3 linked regions of the Homo sapiens genome follow. The protein of the gene in region 1 purifies or fractionates together with the protein of each later gene. This does not show direct contact. Each region holds a gene or a part of one and is shown in the gene's direction. Other genes may lie near its edges.

Evidence for each region.
Region 2: the proteins of SRPK3 (region 1) and CCDC86 purify together in Homo sapiens (affinity purification with mass spectrometry; 3 studies listed by BioGRID and IntAct, with this or other methods). This does not show direct contact.
Region 3: the proteins of SRPK3 (region 1) and SON purify together in Homo sapiens (affinity purification with mass spectrometry; 3 studies listed by BioGRID and IntAct, with this or other methods). This does not show direct contact.

What each region holds. Positions count from the first base shown.
Region 1 is NC_000023.11:153,776,166-153,784,040, forward strand, and holds the start of SRPK3 (SRSF protein kinase 3), read left to right. Parts: upstream 1-4,875; 5' UTR 4,876-4,921; coding exon 4,922-4,980; exon of another isoform or gene 4,981-5,050; coding exon 5,051-5,181; exon of another isoform or gene 5,182-5,339; coding exon 5,340-5,448; exon of another isoform or gene 5,449-5,577; coding exon 5,578-5,665; exon of another isoform or gene 5,666-5,955; coding exon 5,956-6,043; exon of another isoform or gene 6,044-6,606; coding exon 6,607-6,713; exon of another isoform or gene 6,714-6,787; coding exon 6,788-6,953; exon of another isoform or gene 6,954-7,060; coding exon 7,061-7,086; exon of another isoform or gene 7,087-7,586; coding exon 7,587-7,719; intron 7,720-7,808; coding exon 7,809-7,875. Other genes in the region: PLXNB3 (plexin-B3), read left to right, coding at 1-49, 191-294, 722-815, 1,043-1,215, 1,363-1,523, 1,783-1,930, 2,096-2,160, 2,231-2,306 and 2 more. UniProt on the Homo sapiens protein: Serine/arginine-rich protein-specific kinase which specifically phosphorylates its substrates at serine residues located in regions rich in arginine/serine dipeptides, known as RS domains.
Region 2 is NC_000011.10:60,837,176-60,845,133, forward strand, and holds the start of CCDC86 (coiled-coil domain-containing protein 86), read left to right. Parts: upstream 1-4,937; 5' UTR 4,938-4,949; coding exon 4,950-5,707; intron 5,708-7,958.
Region 3 is NC_000021.9:33,567,033-33,574,058, forward strand, and holds part of SON (protein SON), read left to right. Parts: intron 1-124; coding exon 125-235; intron 236-1,938; coding exon 1,939-2,055; intron 2,056-5,518; exon of another isoform or gene 5,519-5,598; intron 5,599-6,275; coding exon 6,276-6,423; intron 6,424-7,026. UniProt on the Homo sapiens protein: RNA-binding protein that acts as a mRNA splicing cofactor by promoting efficient splicing of transcripts that possess weak splice sites.

The sequences.
Region 1 (7,875 bases):
AAGGGCACCCCCTTCTCCCAGAGGCCCTCAGTGCATGCCCTAGACCTTGGTGAGAGAGCCAGCCCTGCCCACCCACCCCAGGGACCCTTCCCTACCCCTCCGGCACCTGGAGCCCCTCAACTGTGTCTTACTATGAGTGTGGGGCGTGGAGAGCAGGCTGTAGACTATCTGCTTCCCTGACTCCCTCCAGAGTGGCGCTCAGGCCTGGCTGGTCACCTGACCCTATCGGACGAAGACTTGACCTCCGTGACCCAAAACCACTGGAAGAGACTCAACACCTTGCAACACTACAAGGTGTGAGCAGGGACGGGGCGAGGCAGGGCGGGGCTGGGGCGGGGCAGGGCGAGGCAGGGCAGGGCGGGGCTGGGGCGGGGCGAGGCAGGGCGGGGCTGGGGCGGGGCGAGGCAGGGCGGGGCTGGGGCGAGGCGGGGCAGGGCGGGGCTGGGGTGGGGAGGGGCGAGGCAGAGCAGGGCAGGGCTGGGGCGGGGCGAGGCACGGCAGGGCGAGGATGGGGCGGGGCGAGGCAGGGCGGGGCTGGGGCGGGGATGGGGGGCGGGGCGGGGCGAGGCAAGGCAGGGAAGGGCAGGGATGGGGTGGGGCAGGGTGAGGCGAGGCAGGGCAGGGCGGGTCTGGGGCGGGGAAGGGCGAGGCAGGGCAGGATGTGGGCGGTGTAGGCGCCTGGCTAGGGGTCAGCACAGCCTCCGCTCCCCATCTCTGCCAGGTCCCAGATGGAGCAACAGTGGGGCTCGTCCCTCAGCTGCACCGTGGCAGCACCATCTCCCAGAGCCTGGCCCAGAGGTGCCCCTTGGGAGAGAGTGAGTCCCTCGGCCCTGACCTGGGGCCACTGGAGTCCAGGCTGGGCAGGCAGAACTCCTGGCCATGCATCTGCCTCAACTTCATCCCCCACCCCACCGAGATCTTCTGCCCATCTCCTTCCTTTCTTCCAGTCCCCACACTGCCCCACCTTGTCGGGGGAGTGGACTGGGCATCCCAGGCCAGGGGCAGGGGGTATAGCCCTGAAGCCAGGCTCCTGTGCCCTCAGACATACCCACGCTGGAGGATGGCGAGGAGGGGGGGGTGTGCCTCTGGCACCTGGTGAAAGCCACCGAGGAGCCAGAAGGGGCCAAGGTGCGGTGCAGCAGCCTGCGGGAGCGCGAGCCAGCAAGGGCCAAGGCCATTCCGGAAATCTACCTCACCCGTCTGCTGTCCATGAAGGTTGGTGCGGCCTGGGTGGCTGGGCCTGAGAGGAGGCTCAGCCAGGGACCCCGACCGAGCCAGGGTGTGGGAGGGGCAGGGGCAGCCTCAGCCGTGGATGGCCCCCACACCCTGCCCTCCACACAGCCCTTATCCCCTGCCTCGCAGGGCACGCTGCAGAAGTTTGTGGACGACACCTTCCAGGCCATTCTCAGCGTGAACCGGCCCATCCCCATCGCCGTCAAGTACCTGTTTGACCTTCTGGATGAGCTAGCAGAGAAGCACGGCATCGAGGACCCAGGGACCCTGCACATCTGGAAGACCAACAGGTGCCTTTCCTGCTGCCCCACCCCTGCTGTGCATATGGTCCACTGAGTCCCAGAGAGACCAGGACATTCCCAGGGTGGATGCGCCCACCTGGGGTTTCTGGAACTTACAGGAAGATCTAGGGCCCAGGTCACCTAGGCCACCAGGCCAGCTTCCAGCGGCCCCTGGCTCCGAGTGTGTTGCCAGTAGGCTGGAGTACATGGGGCGGAGATCACGATGGCAGGCCAGGGCCTCACGCCCACGCCTGCCCTGCGCCCCCAGTCTGCTGCTGCGGTTCTGGGTGAATGCCTTGAAGAACCCACAGCTCATCTTTGATGTACGGGTGTCGGACAATGTGGACGCCATCCTTGCTGTCATCGCCCAGACCTTCATTGACTCCTGTACCACCTCGGAGCATAAAGTGGGCCGGGTGAGAGCAGTGCCAGCAGCAGCAGCTGGCAGGGGCTTGAGGAGGAAAGGCTTATGGGGGAAGCCTAGAGGGCTGTGCACAGAGCTCTGGGTGGGCAGTGGCAGCATCATGGGGGCACCTTCACCTCCGAGCTCATGCCTAGCGCCTCCCCTCCCTCCGGAGCAGGATTCCCCAGTGAACAAACTGCTCTACGCCCGGGAGATCCCACGCTACAAGCAGATGGTGGAGAGGTGGGTGTCAGAGGCATCGGGGCTGCGGGGAAGGGGGCTGCCCCACCCCTAACGAAGTCTGCTCCTCCAGGTACTATGCGGACATTCGCCAGAGCTCTCCGGCGAGCTACCAGGAGATGAACTCTGCTTTGGCTGAGCTCTCCGGGGTGAGGCATGGCCCGGGGGGTGCGCCTGTCCACACGTGGGTGGAAAGACTAGCAGAGCAGAGGGGGGAGACTTGGGGCTTGAGGACCAGGCTGGGACCTCACTGCCCCCCTCCACGTGGTGCCCCCAGAACTACACTTCTGCTCCCCACTGTCTGGAGGCTCTGCAAGAACTCTACAACCACATCCACAGGTACTATGATCAGGTGAGGCCCAGGGCACTCCGGAGGGGAGGCACAGTGGAGCGGGAGGCCCGTGGACCCTCCCGGGGGAGCAGGGGTGCCAGCCCATGCTGGCGGGGCCCAGGCTGGGGAAGGGACTCGGCTTTCATTCTGATTCCCCAGGGAGACGCCAGGCAGCCCCTGCTGGATCCCCAGGCTCCTGCGGTGATGGAAGCAGGGTGGGTGGCCCTGGGCCAGCAGGCAGAGGGGCAGGCTCAGACAGGCACCCTCCTCTGCCCGGGCAGATTATCAGTGCCCTGGAGGAGGACCCTGTGGGCCAGAAGCTGCAGCTGGCCTGCCGCCTGCAGCAGGTCGCCGCCCTGGTGGAAAACAAAGTGACTGACCTGTGAGCTCTGGCTCAGACAGCAGCAAGCCGGATCCACCAACACCGCAGCGCCTTATGACCCCGGAACCGAGCCAGCCACTGAGGGGAGCTGGCAGAGCCTGGGGGCACAGGGTGCAAAGCCAGGCACTGTGCCCAGCAGTGGGCTCCCTGCCTGCCACCTCCCCTGCCAGCCCACCCACCTTCCCCCCACCTGAGATTGTTTCTAATTTATAAGGATCCCCCTCCTTCCCCCTCTCCCCATTGTATTTATTTGCCTGCTGGAAAATCACATCCGGAAATAAAATAGAAATATGTCTTTTTATTTTATTTTGAGACGGAGTCTCGCTCTCTCTCCCAGGCTGGAGTGCAGTGGCGCAATCTCGGCTCACTGCAACCTCTTTTTCCCGGAGTTCAAGCAATTCTCCTGCCTCAGCCTCCCGAGTAGCTGGGACTACAGGCGTGTGCCACCACACCCGACTAATTTTGGTATTTTTAGTAAAGACAGGGTTTCCCCATGTCGGACAGGCTGGTCTCAAAACTCCTGACTTCAGGTGATCTGCCCGCCTCAGCCTCCCAAAGTGCTGGGATCACAGGCATGAGCCACCGCGCCTGGCCAGAAATGTCTTTTGACAAAGGGCCCAATCCCCAGCCCCTGCTGTTCCCTGCAGGAGCTGACTCAGTGCTCTCCTGACTGAGAGTCCCTCAGCCCCATGCCTATAACCTGCTACCCACAGACAAAGAGAGGCCATCAGGTACCCGGGCTTCACTTTCCCTCCCACTCTCTGACCTCGCTGGCCCCTCCAGCAATGCCTGGCCCACCCCTACCAGTTCACGGACCCTGGTACAGGGACACTGCACCAATATCTTGGGACAAACACCCTCTCTGCCGAGCCCCCTCCCTTTCATTGGGACTCCTCTGTCAGGCCCCAGCTGGCCTCCCGGCTCCACCCTCGCCTCTCCATTCCCTTGTCCTTGAAGTGGCCAGAGTGATCTTTTGCTGAGCAGAAGCTCAGTGACCACCCCCCAACCCCATATCACCCAAGCTCCACATTAAGCCTACAGACACCAGGCCTCTAGTCCTCGCCCTCGAACCATGCGGCAGCCGTGGCCAGCACGTGAAGGGCTGGAACGCGTCTTGGCCGCAGGCCTTGCCCCACTGTGCCCTGTGCTGCCCTGGATGCTTCTGGGGACCCAATTTCTCCTGGTCTCTCATGATGCAGCCCCTGGGTCACAGGCCCCTCAGTCACCACCGCACTCATGGGGAAGTGGCTATGGGCTTGCTTGTCCCCAGCAGTGAGCAGCTTCCTGCTGCCTCCCTCATGTCTGGCTATGGAGCAGCCCACGACAGGCACCTTGCAAATGGTGGAGAGGAAGAGCAGGCGCTGGGAGCCAGAGCGCCAGGCAGCGTCGCAGGAGCAGGTTCTGGGCTGGCAAGCTCCCAGGCCTCCCCTCAGCAGGCCTGTTGCCTCTGGTAGGGGAAATGAGGGGTCCCCAGTGACGCCACATTCAGAGGGCACTGGACTCCCAGTTGTCCTAGGGGCTGATGAAACATAGAAGAAGCAGGAAGTGGCTGGGAGCAGCCAGGGACAGGGTTCCCATGGGAATGAGAAGGGCACCTCCAGGAGGATGCCCACAGGGGCACAGGTGGTGGGGGCTTGGCCTAAGGACCAGGTTGCCAAGTGGAGCACATCCCCACAGTCCGCACCGGAGAACGGGAGCCCGACCTGGGGTACGGGCTGCTTCACCCCCGCGTGGACCTCCCCCTCAGCTGGGGTGCGGAGGCTCAGCCTGGGGGCCCAGTTGCCCCTGGTCCCCAAGCAGCAGCCCCCTCTGCCTCCAGGGTGGGCCTGGAGCAGGAGGGGGGCCTCTGCCCGGGGGCCGGGCTCTCTGGGGCCGCCGTCGCGCCGCCCCCTCCCCGCACCGCATACCTTGCCCACAGCCGAGCAGCTGGGAGGCTATTTATAAAGGCGGGTGAGATCAGCGGCCGGCCAAGGCTATAAATTCGCAGGCCGCGGCCGGGCCCCACAGGAGCAGCCGCCCGGGGCACCGGAGCTGCGGGCTGCGTGGCCGGGATGAGCGCCAGCACGGGCGGTGGTGGGGACAGCGGCGGCAGCGGCGGCAGTAGCAGCAGGTAGGGCTCGGCTGGGGCACCCGGAGCCCCTGGCGTCTCTCATGCCCACTGCCACTCACCCCACCCGCAGCTCACAGGCCTCCTGCGGGCCCGAGTCCTCGGGCTCCGAACTAGCCCTGGCCACACCGGTGCCTCAGATGCTGCAGGGCCTTCTGGGCTCCGACGACGAGGAACAGGAAGACCCCAAAGACTACTGCAAGGGTGAGACTTGGCCTTGGGGACATGCGGCCTCACGGCCACTGCAGGGACCCAGGGCAGTCCTGGGCCCACATGGGCCAGATGGTCAATGGGGCCGAGGTGTTCGGGGGCCCAGGGGAGTGAGAACCCCCTCCACCCCAATCTACATCTCCCCTGGGCAGGCGGCTACCACCCTGTGAAGATCGGCGACGTGTTCAATGGGCGGTACCACGTGGTGCGCAAACTGGGCTGGGGCCACTTCTCCACCGTCTGGCTCTGCTGGGACATCCAGTGAGTGCCTCCTTCGCCTCCGGGGCCCAGCACTGGCTGGGATCCTGTCCCTGGGCTTGCTTGGGGCCACCCTGATCCCCGCCGTGGGTCCTGCCAGGGCCACAGCCTACAAGGGTCTCGGTATTGCAGGCGCAAGCGCTTTGTGGCCCTCAAAGTGGTGAAGAGTGCGGGGCATTACACGGAGACAGCTGTGGATGAGATCAAGCTCCTGAAATGTGTGAGGCACCTCCCTACCCCACTCCCAGCTCCCCTGGAGCTGCCTGGGGCCTGGCAATGCGGGTGCAAGGCCTGCCGGGGCTCTGTGGGGCAGGGCGGGGCTCCCTGAGGGGCAGCCTCCAGCTGGCTGTGCCCAAGGGGGAGGATCTGGAGGAACAGGCGAGGGACAGGAGGGGTTGGCGGCCTTTCTTCCAGCAGGGCCCAGCTGGAGCAGGAGAAGGGTACACTGAAGGGAGCTGTGGGCTTCAGGGCAGGGTGGAACCATCTGTGGCCCCTTGGCTTTTGCTCCAGGTCCGGGACAGCGACCCCAGTGACCCCAAAAGAGAGACCATTGTCCAGCTCATTGATGACTTCAGGATCTCAGGAGTCAATGGAGTCCGTATCCTTTGCAGGAAGAGCAAAGCAGTGTGGCAGCCAAGGGCCGGCAAATGGGGGGGCCCTCGCTGCTAGAGCCTGTCTGCAGACCCGCACAATGGGCTTGCATCCCTCCCAGTAACGGGAGCCTCTGGCACGACCCCGCCCCCAGGTAACTGTGTTTACGTGGAGGCAGTAACAAGCTAGCGTTGATTGTCCATGGACGTTGCTATTATCCCCAAACGGCAGGTGCTGTCTCTGTGGCACTGCCTTCCCTTTGGGGGACTGCCAAGAGGCCCTATGGCATAACTAGCATGGGAGTGGGCTGGCCCGAGAGGCCTCTGTGCCTGCTCCTCCAGCGCCACCTCTAGGATGACCACAAAATGCACCATCCCAACTGGCATACCTGTTGAGACTGACAGGGACACTATCGATGATGACACCAGCATAATGGTGACCAGGACTGCCCAGGGGAGGCCCTGCCTCCCCACCTCCACACGGCCCAAGCCTTGCTGCTCCCCTAGCTGAGGGTGGGTGGGGCCTGTGCCGCAGCTGGTGTCCACTGGCCGCCCTTCACTCCCAGCCCAGATGTGTGCATGGTGCTGGAGGTGCTGGGCCACCAGCTCCTCAAATGGATCATCAAGTCCAACTACCAGGGCCTGCCCGTGCCCTGCGTGAAGAGCATCGTGAGGCAGGTGAGTGCCACCCACTGGGCTGCCCAGCCTGGCCTGGGCGGGAGTTGGAGGAGGTCAGGTGCGACTCTCTGCAGGTGCTGCACGGCCTGGACTACCTCCACACCAAGTGCAAGATCATCCACACGGACATCAAGCCCGAGAACATCTTGCTGTGTGTGGGGGACGCTTACATCAGGCGCCTGGCTGCCGAGGCCACGGAGTGGCAACAGGCAGGGGCGCCGCCCCCCTCCCGCTCCATAGGTACCAAGGGCCCACATGGGGCTGGGTCGGGGCCTCTGGGCCTGAACCCCTGCCTGAGTCTCTGTTCCTCCCTGTCCCCCCCCACCGCTCCCCACCTGCACTCCCAGTCAGCACTGCCCCCCAGGAGGTCTTGGTAAGTTGGGGGGCCCCTCTCTCCCATGCCTCCTCTCCCATCTGAGCCAACTGGAGGCCATCTCTGGAGCCACAGTGGCTCCACCCCCCACCTTCACGCACTCCCACGGTGGTAATCCCGAAAGGCTGGGTGGCTGGGCTGACGGTAATTCCCGGGGGGGGTCAAGTGCCCCAAACTGCTCTTGGTGAAAGGATGCTGTCTTCCCCGAATGGCCACTTCCGCCTGCCTTAGCTTGGGCTGAGAGGGGACAGAGAGCACCCTGAGGCGGGCCGGCCAGGTCTTCCCACTCCTAATGGAGCTGTGGGGAGTGGGGCCACAGGCGGGGAGGCAGGGAGAGTAGTGAGTAGCTGGTGCCAAGGGGCGCTGGCGCCACATTCTGGTGTCCATGGGAGCCCTGGGGCCCGGAGAGGCCTCTTCCCTGGCGGCTGTGCAGGGAAACCTCCACTTCATGCTGACTGGGGCGGGCGACAGGAACCCTGGGGTGACCCTGGCTCTGACAGCAGACCGGTAAGCTGTCCAAAAACAAGAGGAAGAAGATGAGGCGCAAACGGAAACAGCAGAAGCGGCTGCTGGAGGAGCGGCTGCGGGACCTGCAGAGGCTGGAGGCCATGGAGGCTGCCACCCAGGCTGAGGGTGAGGGGCCACAGAGGGTGATGGGCCGTGGAGCGCAGCAAAGGCTGCAAGACATCTGCTCAGCAGCTGCCTCCACCCCGTCTCCCCAGACTCTGGCTTGAGACTAGACGGGGGCAGCGGCTCCACATCCTCTTCAGGCTGTCACCCCGGGGGCGC
Region 2 (7,958 bases), on another chromosome or scaffold:
CATCCCTTGACCCCTCTCCTGAGGTCTCTTCCCACCTCCTCTCAAGGGTCTGAAACTGATAATGAGCTGTTAGAAGCACGCAGCATAGATGAGCCTCTGAGATAAGCATGCACGGTAAGAACTCACACGATCACCCTGGTAGTGTTCCACGTTCTCAGTGGCACCTGATTCAAAGTACCTAGAAGCAGCTCTTCACACGTGCAAAAGAGAAAGTGGGGGTAACTACTGAAAGAGGAGAGTTGGGCTCCCAGAGAGGTAAAAACAAAATGCAACAGGGACAGAGGAAGAATCCTGCACTATCCGAAAAAGCCAACGGTTCATGTCCAAGATCAGAGCAAGGGGATGTAGGGAGCAGGAGAGCCTGACAGCCACGGGAACCAGACTGAGGGTTTCAATCAGATGTCCATGGGGTGGCTTGAATGTGATCTTGACCACACTGATACAGATCATGGAGTAGGGAGGTGACAAATCCACTCAGCCGTCCATGGGGCAGTCAACCTTAGTGCCACAAGGAGCTCTGGGCCCCACATTCTGGAAGCATTGTAGAGAACTGGTGTCTTTCCCAAAGACTTATCATGTTATGGGAGGAACAGGAGATGCTTAACCTGGATAAAAGACAATTCTGGAAAAGCTACAAGAAAACTGACTTCAAATACTTGAGAGAGCTTTGAGCAAAAGACAGAGCAGCTTGGATCTTTGTAGCACAATGAAGATTAGCTGAGGCCCAGTTGCACCTCTGCCCATCTGGGTCCTGCCTTCACTCCTGCCATGCTCAGCAACATCCTCGTTGCCAATGACACCCCAGACTGAGTCAGCCCCATGTCCCAGTCCTAGGCCTGGTGGAGGTGGAGGTTTAGGGCTTAGAGTCAAGAAGCCCTGAGCTCCAGACCTCACCCTGCGCCCTTTTTGTGTCACCCTGGCCCCGAAGCGCAGCCTCTCTGGGAGTGGGATTTCCTGGTCAGTACAATGAGGATGATCACCCCAGCCCTGTAAGGTCCTAATGAGGATCCATTCATTCAACAAATACATATCAAGTACCGTGCTCCTGCTGAAAATCACCCTCCCGAACCGGAGCTCTGGGGAGCACAGGAGCACCCAGAAGAGGTCTGGCGCGTGGTAAGTGCTCAGTTAATGCTGCTGATGACCGCCAGGGGCCCTTTCCCTGCCCTTCTCTCAGAGTTGGCTTCTGGAGAAACACAGCCTGAAACACCGGGGCAAGCAATGATTGGTCCAGGCATTGTTTCAAGCACTCTGCAAGTACACCACCACACCAGGCTCTTCTGAAAATTTCAGGAGTCTCCTCTGGGCCTCTGCACACCATGTATAATGACAATGACAAACTGAGCTCAGGTGGGAGTAGGGGGTTCTGGGCCAGAGCCCACCTGATGCTGAGGTTGACAAAGTGTCTCCAAGTGTCTGGGGGCCACCCAAAGGCCTCCTCTAAAACACATCTCCCTCTCTCTGGTGAAAACCTGAGATCACCCTCTGAAGTATTTCAGGCAAGGCTAGGTGTTGAACAGAAAGCCATGGGGACCCAGGTCTCTGACATCTGGGGACTGTCAGACCCTCTCAACTGTAGCACCCCTTAGCTGGGGGGAGGTCAATGACTCAGAGGAGAACACCTGATCCTATCTTCCATCCATCTGCCAGCGCTTGGTTTCCATCAGTCAGCAGATCTCAGGTTACATAAATAAACTGGTATTGCTGATTCGGCACATTCTGCACGATGGTGTGTGCCAGGTGGTACCCACCTCCTCCCAGCACACAGACCAGAATCAGTGTGACGAATAGGTGAGCAAGGCCCATGTGGGGGCAGCTGCAAGGCAGCTAAGCATGCCACCTCTGGAACCACAATCCTGGCTCCTGAATGTGCCGCTGTCTGATTTTGGGCAAGCACCTTAGCCTTCCCATGCCTGATTCCTTGCCTGGATAACAGGCAGATTTACTGTTAAGAGTTGTGGCTCTGGAATCAGACAGTCTAGGTGTGGATCTTGCCTCTACCACTTATTTGCTGTGTGACCTTTACAAGTGTCTCAGCCTCTCTGTGCCTCAGTCTTTTTTTTTTTTTTTTTTTGAGACAGAGTCTTGCTCTGCCACCCAGGTTGCTGTGCAGTGGCACGATCTTGGTTCACTGCAACCTCTACCTCCCAGGTTCAAGCAATTCCCCTGCCTCAGCCTCCTGAGTAGCTGGGACTCGAGGCGCCTGCCACCACACCCAGCTAATTTTTGTACTTTTAGTAGAGATGGGGTTTCATCATGTTGGCCAGGCTGGTCTTGAACTCCTGGCCTCCAGTGATCCGCCCACCTTGGCCTCCCAAAGTACTGGGATTACTACAGGTGTGAGCCAGCGCACCCAGCCTCTCAGTTTCTTTATCTGTAAACTGGGAGTAATAACAACTGCACCTGCCTCACAGGATTGTTGGGAGAAGCATTAAGAAATGGATTTGTACTTGGAGAGTACTTGAAACAATGCCTGGACCAATCATTGCTGGCACCAATGTTTCAGGCTAGGTTTCTGCAGAAGCCAACTCTGAGAAGAGGATTAAGTACAATATTTGTCTGCTCTGAGAATGACCTCAGCAAGCATCTATAAGAAAGTGGGGAAGTGAGACAGGGATGAAGCCAAAAGAGGGTCCATGAGCAGATTACCTTTGTGGGCAATGCAAGTTCAATCCTGTTGGTGGCCTCTGGGGGCTACAGAGAAGCCCCTCAGTATCCTACCACCTAAAGGCAAGAAAGCTGTGATGTAGAAAGCTGCAATAAAAGCAAAGGAGTGGCCAGGCACAGTGGCTCACGCCTGTAATCCCAACACTTCAGGAGGCCGAGGCAGGAGGATCACTTGAGCCCAGGAGTTCAAGACCAGCCTGAGCAACACAGGGAGACCCCGTTTCTACAAAAAAAAAAAAATAGCCAGGCATGGTGGCATGAGCCTGTGGTGCCAGCTACTCAGGTGGGAGGATCCCTGGGGCCTGGGAGGTCAAGGCTGCAGTGAGCTGTGATTGTGCCACTGCACTCCAGCCTGGACAACAGAGCAAGACCCTGTCTCAAAAATAATAATAATTTTTAAAAGAAAGCAAAGGAGTGTAAGGAGACAGGGTCCCAACAGCGATCGCCACACCAGGCGCTTCTGAAAATTTCAGGAGTCTCCTCTGGGCCTCTGCACACCATGTATAATGACAATGACAAACTGAGCTCATGTGGGAGTAGGGGGTTCTGGGCCAGAGCCCATCTGATGCTGAGGTTGACAAAGTGCCTCCAAATGTCTGGGGGCCACCCAAAGGCCTCCTCTAAAACACATCTCCCTCTCTCTGGTGAAAACCTGAGATCACCCTCTGAAGTATTTCAGGCTAGACTAGGATATGATCCAATCGGCACTGGAGAGTGATCCCTCCAGCTGGGGACAAGAGCTTAGGAGGCAGGGCAAGCCAAGGGGGACTGGAGCAGGGCAGAGGGGCATACAGTCTCCTCCAGCACTCTGGCAACACCTGCCGGGCTTGGTTCTGAGTGTCAGATCATTGGGGTCTCCAGGCAGGGGCAGGGCATTTAAGGAACTGAATGGAACTCACTCCTCTGACAGTTGGGGGGTGGAAGAGCTGGGCAAGGAGGTGTCCCGGCTGCTTCTGCTGTGGACAGCTGCATGGCCGGAGAGGAGCAGTGAGGCAGGCAAAGCCCCCCTGCAGGGGTCTCCTTGACTCAGGAACATGAGGAAGATGAGGACACTCTGATCCCTGATATTCTTGGACAATTTCCCAGGCCCTCTCACAAGCCCGCAGCTGGAGAAACAATGGTTTCTAAAAGAAACCACTGGAATGTCAGACGGGGCCCTGGGACCTTTAATGGCCAACCCCAGGCAGTTCCAAGAATTACACAACTGGGCCACTTCCAAGATGTTCTTCCTAAGAAGCATGCTGTAAGTAAATCAAAGCCCCACTCCTAGGTCTCACACGAAAGTCTCCACAGCCCCACATTCCCCAACCCCACATCCCGAGAGTCTTCTCTAGGCCTTGGGAGGTCCAGAAGTCAACACCTGCTCACTGGTGAGGTCCCAAAGTGCTTAGTAAGCAAAGTACATTTACAGGTGAATAGCAAGGGAAGGGAGGGGAGGCGAAGCAGGTTCACACACGAGCAAAAACCACTGTCTGGGCTGAAAGGAAGATCGGAGATGATCCAACCCGTTTCTAGAACTGGGGTAGAAGAAGAGGGACGTGGGAGGATATGCAGCTGGTCGAGGGCCCAGGTGAGCCACAGGACAAAGGTGGTGCATCTTATTGGTACCTCAACTTCCCTCACAAACGTTGAAAACGCTGAAAAGGGAGGGAGAGCTATGGATTATATACGGAAGCACAGGACGGAAGAATCAAGAGTGTGAACAATTAACACAGAAAAGACCGATCTTCCACCTCCAGGACCCCCAGGTAGCAGTCCCTCAGGTAGGTGGGAGGAGGACTCTGACAGGATCATTTGGGATGCACGAAGCTAGTGCAAAATGACCCCTATTACAAATGAGAAAACAGGCCCAAGGAGGGCAGGACTCTGCCCAACTGCACCGGAGTTGGCTGCAAAACATCCACTGGGCCTTGCCTATGGGCTCCTCGGACCTTTTTTCGACTCTGTTCTCTCCCTGAAATGGGTCCTCCCACTTTCCCTTTTCTACTTGCTCGCTCTTCTTTCCCCAGGAAACTTTGCAAGAAAGGCAAAAGCGAATCCCAGGAAAAAGACTGGCTCATCAATCACATGTTGACTGCGCTCGCGCGAATTGCGCATGCGCATGCTGAGCCCCACTCTCCCCAACCCCGGTCCCGCCTCTCCACCCCTCACCAACATGGCCGCCTCAGCAACAGCCCCCCTCCTGTGCGTCACGGACGCGGCGACTCCTGACGTCATAGGAAGGCGCCGGTTTCGGCGGGGGCTGCACGTGCGCAGGGGTGTGGAAACTTACCGGCTGAGCCATGGATACACCGTTAAGGCGCAGCCGACGGCTGGGAGGCCTAAGGCCCGAATCCCCCGAGAGCCTCACCTCAGTTTCGCGGACGAGACGGGCCCTTGTGGAGTTCGAGTCGAACCCAGAAGAAACGAGGGAGCCCGGGTCTCCTCCGAGTGTGCAGCGGGCTGGCCTGGGGTCCCCCGAAAGGCCGCCGAAGACAAGCCCAGGATCACCCCGTCTGCAGCAGGGTGCAGGCTTGGAGTCACCCCAAGGGCAGCCAGAGCCAGGCGCAGCGTCCCCCCAGCGTCAGCAAGACCTACACCTGGAGTCGCCTCAAAGACAGCCAGAGTACAGTCCTGAATCCCCACGATGTCAGCCGAAGCCAAGTGAGGAGGCACCAAAGTGTTCTCAGGACCAGGGAGTACTGGCCTCGGAGTTGGCCCAGAATAAGGAGGAGCTGACCCCGGGGGCCCCCCAGCATCAGCTACCGCCGGTCCCAGGATCACCAGAGCCTTACCCCGGTCAGCAAGCTCCCGGTCCGGAGCCCTCTCAGCCACTACTGGAGCTGACACCCAGGGCACCTGGCTCCCCCCGGGGTCAGCATGAGCCGAGCAAGCCACCTCCAGCTGGGGAGACGGTGACAGGCGGCTTCGGGGCAAAGAAGCGAAAAGGTTCTTCATCCCAGGCCCCAGCGTCCAAGAAGTTGAATAAAGAGGAGCTTCCTGTAATCCCGAAGGGGAAGCCCAAATCGGGGCGAGTGTGGAAGGACCGCTCCAAGAAAAGGTGAAGTGGGGGACAGCATGGACAGGGGTGGCGTTCTCTATGGTGTTGGGACCCCGCCTTTGCCCTGCTGCAGCCTGGAGAATAGCCCCAGGGTTAGAGAGAGCTCACGTTAGTGGGGATGTTAGCAAACAGGTAATTACAATCAGAATGTGGTAAAATGCCCTGGGATCCCGGAGAGGGTGGGGCCAGGCCCTCAAAGATCAATTTCTCTGATGCCTTTCCTCCTCAGGGTCCCTATGGGCCTCTCCTGTAGCACCTCAGGTCTGTATTCGTTCAACAGACATTTACCGTTGTCTGCCCTCTCTAGTGAGAGAAGCAGAAGCAAGTAAACCAGCCATTACTTGATCAAAGCAGTGAGGTCTTCATCCAATATAGTCTATTACAGTTATTTGCCTTTAAGATAAAAAGTATTACTGAGCACTGATTATATAAGGATTTACCAGTCAACAGCCTTAATAAGGATTTACCAGTCAACAGCCTTTCAAACATGGAACAGCATGTGTCATCACGCTTAATCTGCACGTCAGCCCTGTGAAGCAGGCGGTGTTATTATTCCTGTTTTTTGTGTGAGGAAACCAAGGCTAAATGAGTGGTAGGCACAGGACCTGAGCACAGATCTGATTCCGAAGCCTGTGTGCAAAAAACCCCTTTACCCAATCCCTGTAGATCCACCTTGAATTGGATTGCGACCTTCTTAAGGGGCAGGCACGAGATCTTTCTTGTCTTTCTGTGCCAAGGGCATAGTAAATGCCCAATGAATGCTTATTTAATGAAGGAACGAAGTAGCTCATCTGAAGAAGGAAGAGTGTAGGCTGCCATGAAGGAGAGGTGTGGGATTCAGTTCCAATTCGAGCTAATGGGAACCACAGGGGAGAGTCAGGGATGTATGCCTGTGAGGGACCATGAGGAAGGAGGGTGTTTTTAAGGAAGAAGCTGACTCTGTGCCAGGCTTCGTGCTAGGCCCTTTTCTTGTATCCTTAAAACCCTAGGCTGTGGATATTATCCCCCCACCCCTGATGAAACAGAAGAAACTGAGGCTTACAGAGTAATTTACTGCAAGTCTCCCATGGGAGAGACTTTGAGGCTAGAGTGACTGTAACTGTTGGAGAAGTGGATGATGGCACTACCCCTCTGCCCTGTCCCAGGGGGTCACAGGAGAATGGCAGGGCCGTTGATGGCCATGTGGAACTGGAGGAGGCTGGTTCAGGTGGGAAGAGGGTGATGAGCAAGTTGAGCGGGTGAAGCTTGGGGTCCTGGTACTCACGCTGCAGGTGGGGAGATGGGCTTGCTGAGCTAGAGGGGGCTGGGCCCATGCAGAGGTGGGGAGAAGGGAGGGGCCCACACAAGACACAGGATCAGCAGCTGGAGCAGAGTAGGAGGCCACAGATCACTTGACCAAGAAGTCTGGAGAGAGGGTGTGTGGTTCCAGCTCCCTGCCCAACTGCAGACCCGTCCTGACTCACTGTTGCTCACTCAGAGCATGCACTCCAGACTCCTTAATGAGGCCGGCAGGCCCACCCTCCTCTCCCCTCCATCACTAGAGCTTCCACACTGTTGTCCCCTCCATGTTCCTCCCATGTGTGACGCTCCCTCCTTCCTCAGCGCCTTCACACGTGCTGTTCCCACTGTTTGAAAGGCTCTTTCCCTGGCCAGTCCCCCACTCATGTTTCAGGGCTCAGTTCAAATGTCACCTCCTCTGAAAAGCCTCTCTGGCTTATCCAACTAGGGTTAAGTCCCCATGCTTTATGTTATCATTGTGTGCTGTACTTCTCTTTTGTAACACCTCCATTTGCACAAATGCTTATTTATTTGTGATTCTTATTGACTGCCTGTTTTCCTTTAAACCGGAGGCTCCGTGAGAGTGTAAGAGTGGGGACTTACCTATCATGACTAGATGCCCCAGAGCCCAGTGCAGGGTAGGGCACTAAGCTGAACAAGTGGATGAATTGAGGACAGAAGGTAGTTCATTCATTCATCAACCAGTTGCTCAGATCTTGGGTAAACATGTCTGTGAACAAAAAGTCTCTGCTCTCCTGAAGCAAACATTCTAAATGTGGGAAACAGATAAAGAACAAGTACACACATGATATGTCAGTAATAAAGACTTCAAAGAAAAATAAACCAGGATGGGGACCAGAGAATAACAGGGAGGGCAGGGTATTGCCACAGTGCTCAGAGATGGCCTTGCAGATAAACAGGTCTGAGCAGAGGGAGCCGGGCAGAGATCTGGGGAAACAGTATCCAGGCAACA
Region 3 (7,026 bases), on another chromosome or scaffold:
AAGATTATTAGTATTATAAGACTATTATTTTGTTTTTGATATGTAGCAACTAAAGATATGAGTACTTTTCAGAATTTAGGGGACTATGGTAATTTGAGATAATTATCTCTGTTTTCTTTCTTAGCCTGTGGACATCTCTACAGCAATGAGTGAACGGGCACTTGCTCAGAAAAGACTCAGTGAGAATGCATTTGATCTTGAAGCCATGAGCATGTTAAATAGAGCTCAGGAAAGGGTATGTAGCAGTTTTTTAAAAAAAATTATTATTTACCATCAGCCAACTCACACCAATGTACCAGTTTTAATGTCTAAATAAGAATTTTGCTAACTAGATGGTTGAGTTGTAACATCCTTTACCTTATTTTCAATGTCTTATTTTAAATGAAAGTGATTCGAGGCCTGATCATTTATTCAATAAATGTTTATTGTTTACTATGTGGCAGGAACTGTTTCTTGAGAGAACAAAATAGAAAAATTTCCCTGTCCTCACAGAGTTTACAATCTGGTGTATAAAAACAACTAAGTGCCTACAACCCTATGAAATGTGTAGGTATTAATAGTTGCCATATTTCAGCCGAGAAAACTGAAGTAAAGGGTGGTTAAGGCCAGGCATGGTCGCTGATGCCTGTAATCCCAGCACTTTGGGAGGCCGAGGTGGGGGCAAGGAGTCAGGAGTTCAAGACCAGCCTGGCCAAGGTGATGAAACCCCATCTCTACTAAAAATACAAAAATTAGCTGGGTTTGGTGTTGCATGCCTGTAATGCCAGCTACTCAGGAGGCTGAGGCAGGAGAAATGCTTGAACCTGGGAGGCAGAGGTTGCAGTGAGCCAGGATCGCGCCACTGTACTCCAGCCTGGGCAACAGAGTGAGACTGTCTAAAAAAAACAAAAGAGTGATTAAGTGATATCCATAGTCACACAACTAATTAGTGGGGGAACTGGGATTCAAACCCAAGCAATCTGAATCTGGAGTCTGTGCTTTTAACAATGGACAGCCTCTCCATTTCATTTCTACTGTTTTATGGTAAATCAGTAAGTACATGTTCAGACAGGAAATACATTGCTGACAGTGCAAGGTGTTTAGTAAATCTAATTTGTGTGAATGACAGCTGATCTTTATCACAACAAATGTTGGTGACTGAAAAAAAGTATACAAGCTTCTTTAAAAAGTTGTTTTACGGCCGGGTGCAGTGGCTCACGCCTGTTATCCCAGCACTTTGAAAGGCCGAGGCGGGCGGATCAGTTGAGGTCAGGAGTTCAAGACCAGCCTGACTAACATGGAGAAACCCTGTCTCGACTAAAAATACAAAATTAGCCGGGCGCGGTGGCGCATGTTTGTAATCAATCCCAGCTACTCTGGAGGCTGAGGCAGGAGAATCGCTTGAACTCGGGAGGAGGAGGTTGCAGTGAGCAGACATCGCACCATTGCACTCCAGCCTGGGCAACAAGAGAGAAACTCCATCTCAAAAAAAAATAGTCGTTTATGTATTCAAGTGGACAGTTTCCTACATTTAAACTCTTTAAACCTGTGTCATGAATTTAGTCTGTATAAATGTCTCAAAGGAAGTAATTAAGAATCCAGGCTGTCATGACATGTATTACAATACATTTGTATGAGATAGGAAGGGAGGGTGGGGACCCATTGTCATATGAGCTCTTTTTTGCATTTTTAGTGTATCTGTGTGATAGTTTGAAGAATATTAACAGCTGTATTTTTTAGTAGCTGTGCTTTTAGATACATTTCAAAATCTTATTAATGGGATTCACTAAATGTTGTCAAACTGCTTCTTTAGAAAGTTTAGGCAAACATTTAATGTTAAATATGTTTTAAAAGTTAAATATTTAAGTCTGCTTTTCAGCCATTTTTAGTGAATTATTACCAGTGATGTTTTAATCAGGTAATTTTACTTAGTTAACTGAGACTACTTCTTTTCTTCAGATTGATGCCTGGGCTCAGCTGAACTCTATTCCTGGCCAGTTCACAGGAAGTACAGGAGTACAGGTTTTGACACAAGAACAGTTGGCCAATACTGGTGCCCAAGCCTGGATTAAAAAGGTACACAGTATATGCACATATGAAAGTGTCGAACAAAAAGTTTAAATTTTTTGGAAACTGTTTATTAAAACTGCATGAAAAGACCAGTGACTCTAACCAAAGTTCCAAGTAAATTTGCTATGTGTATATGCTCCAGGGCGGACACTGAAGACGGACTGGATTCATGAGAAAATGGCAAATGTATAAATGTGGCTCAAGAGCCACTAACTTATAAGGTTATTTTAAAAATTGTTACTGCTGCTTTTGAAGGGGTGATTTAACTTTATTTTGAACGCTAATAGTGTATCAGGTGCTGTTCAGAATATTCCACAGTTCCTGCTGGACTACTAACCTAATCATTTCAAAGCAGTGGTTCTCAAATTTTTCTTCATCATGGGATACTTTATTACAGGTTTATTTTTAGTGGATCACTGCCCCCAAGAGCCCTCTACCACCTTAATTTTCCATTCCTCTATTCCTTTGCCCTCGCACCCCACCCGCTTCATTAGTGCCTGTGCCTTCTTGTAAGATCTCTTGGCCCCCGTTCCTCACTCCTCTTGTGACCTGTAGCCCCAGGACCTTTTGGTTGTCAGCTGCTGGTTACAGCAAGTGGTTGGGAGGCCCTAGTATTAGCTCTGCATGTGGTGATCTTGCCATGGGACTGGAAGCCTGAGGGAGGATGGCTGGAGTGGGGTGGGCTGTGGTGAAGGGGATGGGATGGAGATTAATCTGTGGACCACCATTTAGGCCCTAGTGGCCTCTGGTGATCCACAGGCTCAATTTGAGAACCACTAATTTCATGACAAAACAGATATGTAAGACCTAAAATCAAGGGAGAGAATGGACGCCTCGTGCTACGAAGATGTAGGTGCATCTGGTTTCAGATTCTGCAGTGAGACCTGTGAACTCCACCTACGGCTGCCTCATCATTGGGGGAGTCTTAGGTGGCTAAGAAGGGCATTCTGAAGAAACGCGTTGTGGTGAAGGGACAAAGCTTGGTTGGATGGGTGATGGGAAATTTGTTACAGGAGTACTGGCAGCATAGCAGTGCTGAAACTGGGAGGCCGCGTGGTCTAATGGATTGGGAAGGTTTCTTTATCCTGTTGTACTCCTGACTCCTTGTGTAATCATGGGCAAGTAACTCTTTGGAATTTCAAAGTCTCTGAGGTGTCTAGTGGTAATCAGTAACGTGATGGTTACCTATAGAGAGTTGCTATGAGTGCCAGTGAATGAGCTGAATTTCTGAAAAATGAGACATTGGTTGCTTTGTGTATTTTAATCTTGTAACATTTATTTCAATTTTGATAGCTTTATCTTTGTTGATCTTACTAACAAATTAATATGAAACATCATGTATACTCATTATGCCTGCCTTTTTTTGGGAAGTAGTTGCACTGATGTGTATAGTGAGTACACAGTTAGATTCATTAAGAAATTACAATTTCTGCAGTTTGCTGAGGGTTGGTGTTAGAATAAAGGGTGAAAATGTATATAGCAAAATATTTTAAAGATTGGATTAATCTTGGACTTCTATATTATAGTTACTATGAAAGTGATTTATATAATATTTGAAAAAATGTCTTTCATCTTTGGAAGAACTATAAATGTACATCTATTTCTTTAGTTTTAATTCTTTAATACTATTTAGTCTTGAAGCTAAGTACTCAGCCAGTATTTCAGGAAGTTAGAAATAAAGCTTATGGGTGTTAAAATAGGCACATAATACAGAGTCATGTACACTGCTAGGTAGAAACTTCTGAATGTGCTTCCATTACAAAATTTTGGTCTTTATCTAATGATGTGCTGATCCATAATGTTTGTATACTTATAAATGTGTTAATAACTTAAATAACTTTTAAAAAGTGAATCTTTTACTGACTCAATTGGTTTTCCCCTAAAATAATTTCTTCTGGTATTTGCAGTCTTGTAGGCAGTTAACAGACTTTAATAACTTTAAAATGTTTAGTAGCACCTTGAAAAAAGGCTTCAACTTTATATTTTATGTAAGATATACTTTGGGAAGCAAATTATTTTGATAAATTATGAGATAAAGATATGTTCAGACCAAATTTTAAATTATAGATAAAAGTAGCACTTAAAGGAAAAGATTCATTTGTATAGAATTACTGAAGAATATTTGATGCTAGTATCAACTAAAAAAGAAACTTTTGAAAATTAAAAATGGGCCACAACATGTAGAAGTCATTAGGCAGCTGAAAATTTAGGATGTATGATCCATGTTAAATATCACAAATATTGTCTACTCATTAAATGTTTAGTTGTGTTTAGAAAACCTGTCAAACGATCATTTTGGCTCTTCTTTAGTATAGTCCAGCATCTGCCTTATGTGTTAAAAAACACATGGAATACCAACATCCTCCGTGTTCTTTTTAGTTTGTTGCAGTGTATTTTTAGATTACAAAAAAAGCAAAGTTTTATCAGTAGTCTCATTAATCAGTAAAACATTTAAAGTAGTTCGTTTAAAAGAAATTTTATTTCTAGAATGGAATGATTTGGATGTGACCTGATAAATACAGTTTGTTATTGTGGTCTCATTAAATTAATCAGCTTTTTCACACTGGGGTAAAGAAACAGATGATGATACTAGGGAATGGAAACAAAATTGGAAACCTGGGTTATTTGGGGATTTATATTGTACTCTGCACAGTTGCCCTTTTTTTTAGGCGTGTTCCCTGGAAAAGAGGGACGGATGAACCTGGAAGTAAGTAAAAGACATTCTAGGTGTGTAGCATCAAGGCAGTTAATATCCAAGCATCAGCTTTCTCTTTATACATCTACACTGCATGGCCTGCACCAAATAAGGAACTGAACCAGGGGTATGTTTTTACCTCCACAGCTGCCTCCTTCCATCAGAGCACCTTGATGAACTTAATGTCTAGTCACACGTCATTGGCATGTTTTCTCCCCAGCATTTAATTACAAAGCTGGGAAACAAAAGATGATAGATACAGTTTTACTACTGCATACAAACATTTCTTTTTTACATTCAGTATTAACTTATCAATATAGGAGATGTGCATACTATTTCCTGAGCTACTGAAGTTTTTTTACTCTCTCTGTTGATAAGTTAATGACTTTTGCTATATTATATATTTATATATATATATATATATATATTTGGTAAGAGAACATAAAAACCTAAAATTTAGTAACAAGGGGAAAATAAAGCATGATTTGGAGATATGTTTCAAATTTTTAAAAAATGACCATAAAGATCAACAGTACAACTTAATACTGTTTGCTATATGTACATGGATGCCCTTTAATAAGAGGCATTGAATATTTCTTAACCTGTAAAAATAACTGTTGACCATGCTAATGTATATATACTTGTGCATCTTAGGACATTAAGTGGTTTGCTGCTTTGATGGAAATTATGGTTCAGTGGGTTGGATACAAGAGAGATGACTGTTCACAGAATAACCTGTGAACTTTCACCCCTCTGTATGGAAACTTGTTTCAGGGCCAAATCCTTGTAGCTGTCTTCTTGCCCCGGTCAGTGCCAGCCGTACTATTCACAACACTGCTGCTACCGAGGCCTAGGTATGTAAACATTTAAGGAGTTTTTTAAAAGTCTTTTAACATCAAGCTAGGTTTTAAAAGAATTCAAATTCATTTTGGCATACTTACAGGATATTTTATGTGATTGTTTTCTATTTGTTACTGTGTAAATTTCAAGAGTTTTTTTTTTTTTTTCTGCTTTAGGGATTTTCTAAGTAAAATATTTATACTTGCTTTATAGTAGAATGGGGAAGAAAACTTTGGATGACAACAGTATGCTTCTTCAGTGTCTAAACTATTTCTAAGTGATTTCTGGGCTTTATTCATAAACTAGGTACACCTGGGACAATTAATATCATTGATTGTTTTAACATTGCCTTCTTTTTATTTTGCAAGCTAAGAAGAGATACCAGTGAACCTAAATAGTGGACGAAAACAGGAGTGTTCTAATTTTTTTTTTTTGAGGGGGGCACGAGGGCTACTGTTTCAAAACTGCCATTTACTTGTCTTATTTGACTTCCAAAATACTATTACGTTAATGTGCAAATAATCAGAACATACACACTACAGTATGTATAAAGTATAGAGGAATTTACATTTAATTGCTATAACAGATCTAGAAGTAAAGTAAGATTCCTCTTTTTAGAAAGTAAACAATGAATCTGTCACCAAGTTCTAACTGTAAAATGGGGACATTTTACCTTTCTTTCTTTGGATAGGATCAGTTCTTAAGAGCAGCCCCGGTAACTGGAGGAATGGGAGCCGTTTTGATGAGAAAAATGGGCTGGAGAGAAGGAGAAGGATTAGGAAAAAACAAAGAAGGCAATAAGGAACCCATCCTAGTTGATTTTAAGACAGACCGAAAAGGTAACAAGTTCTTTTTTGGAATGTTTATTAACGTCTCCTTTAACATTACCTTTAATATATCCTTTTGAACCCAGTGATACTGAACTGAAGGCACTTCTTGTATATATACAGGTATTTGTCAGAAAAAACATTAACCCCTTTTGGGGTTCACAGAGCAGCTTATTTTTATATAACTATGGATAGAGACACCAGTTTGAACTTTTAAAAGGCACCTTTTGTTATGCTAGTTGCTAAATATGGAAATGTGTATATATCTAATTTTATTATTACACCTCCAAATTCAACTGGATTTCATGTTTAGAAAACAGGATTTCCATTTTATTTTCTCTTGACAAGGAACCATCCTTTTTTCTAGAGTTTAGTTTATTTTTTGTTAGATATTTTAGCACATCTTCATTATTTCCTATTACAATACTGGTTTAGTCTAGATTTCATAAACCCTGTTTGCTTTTTTCTTCCAAGCTCAGTAGTTAAGTTGGGTTAGAGTATAGTAGACCAGCTGCTGACAATAATGTTACTTCTTCCTGTTGCCTTGTGTTAAGGCATCTTGGAACTGTTAGCATTGACTGTATTTTCCTTTTACCTTCAGATACCTGGGCAGGG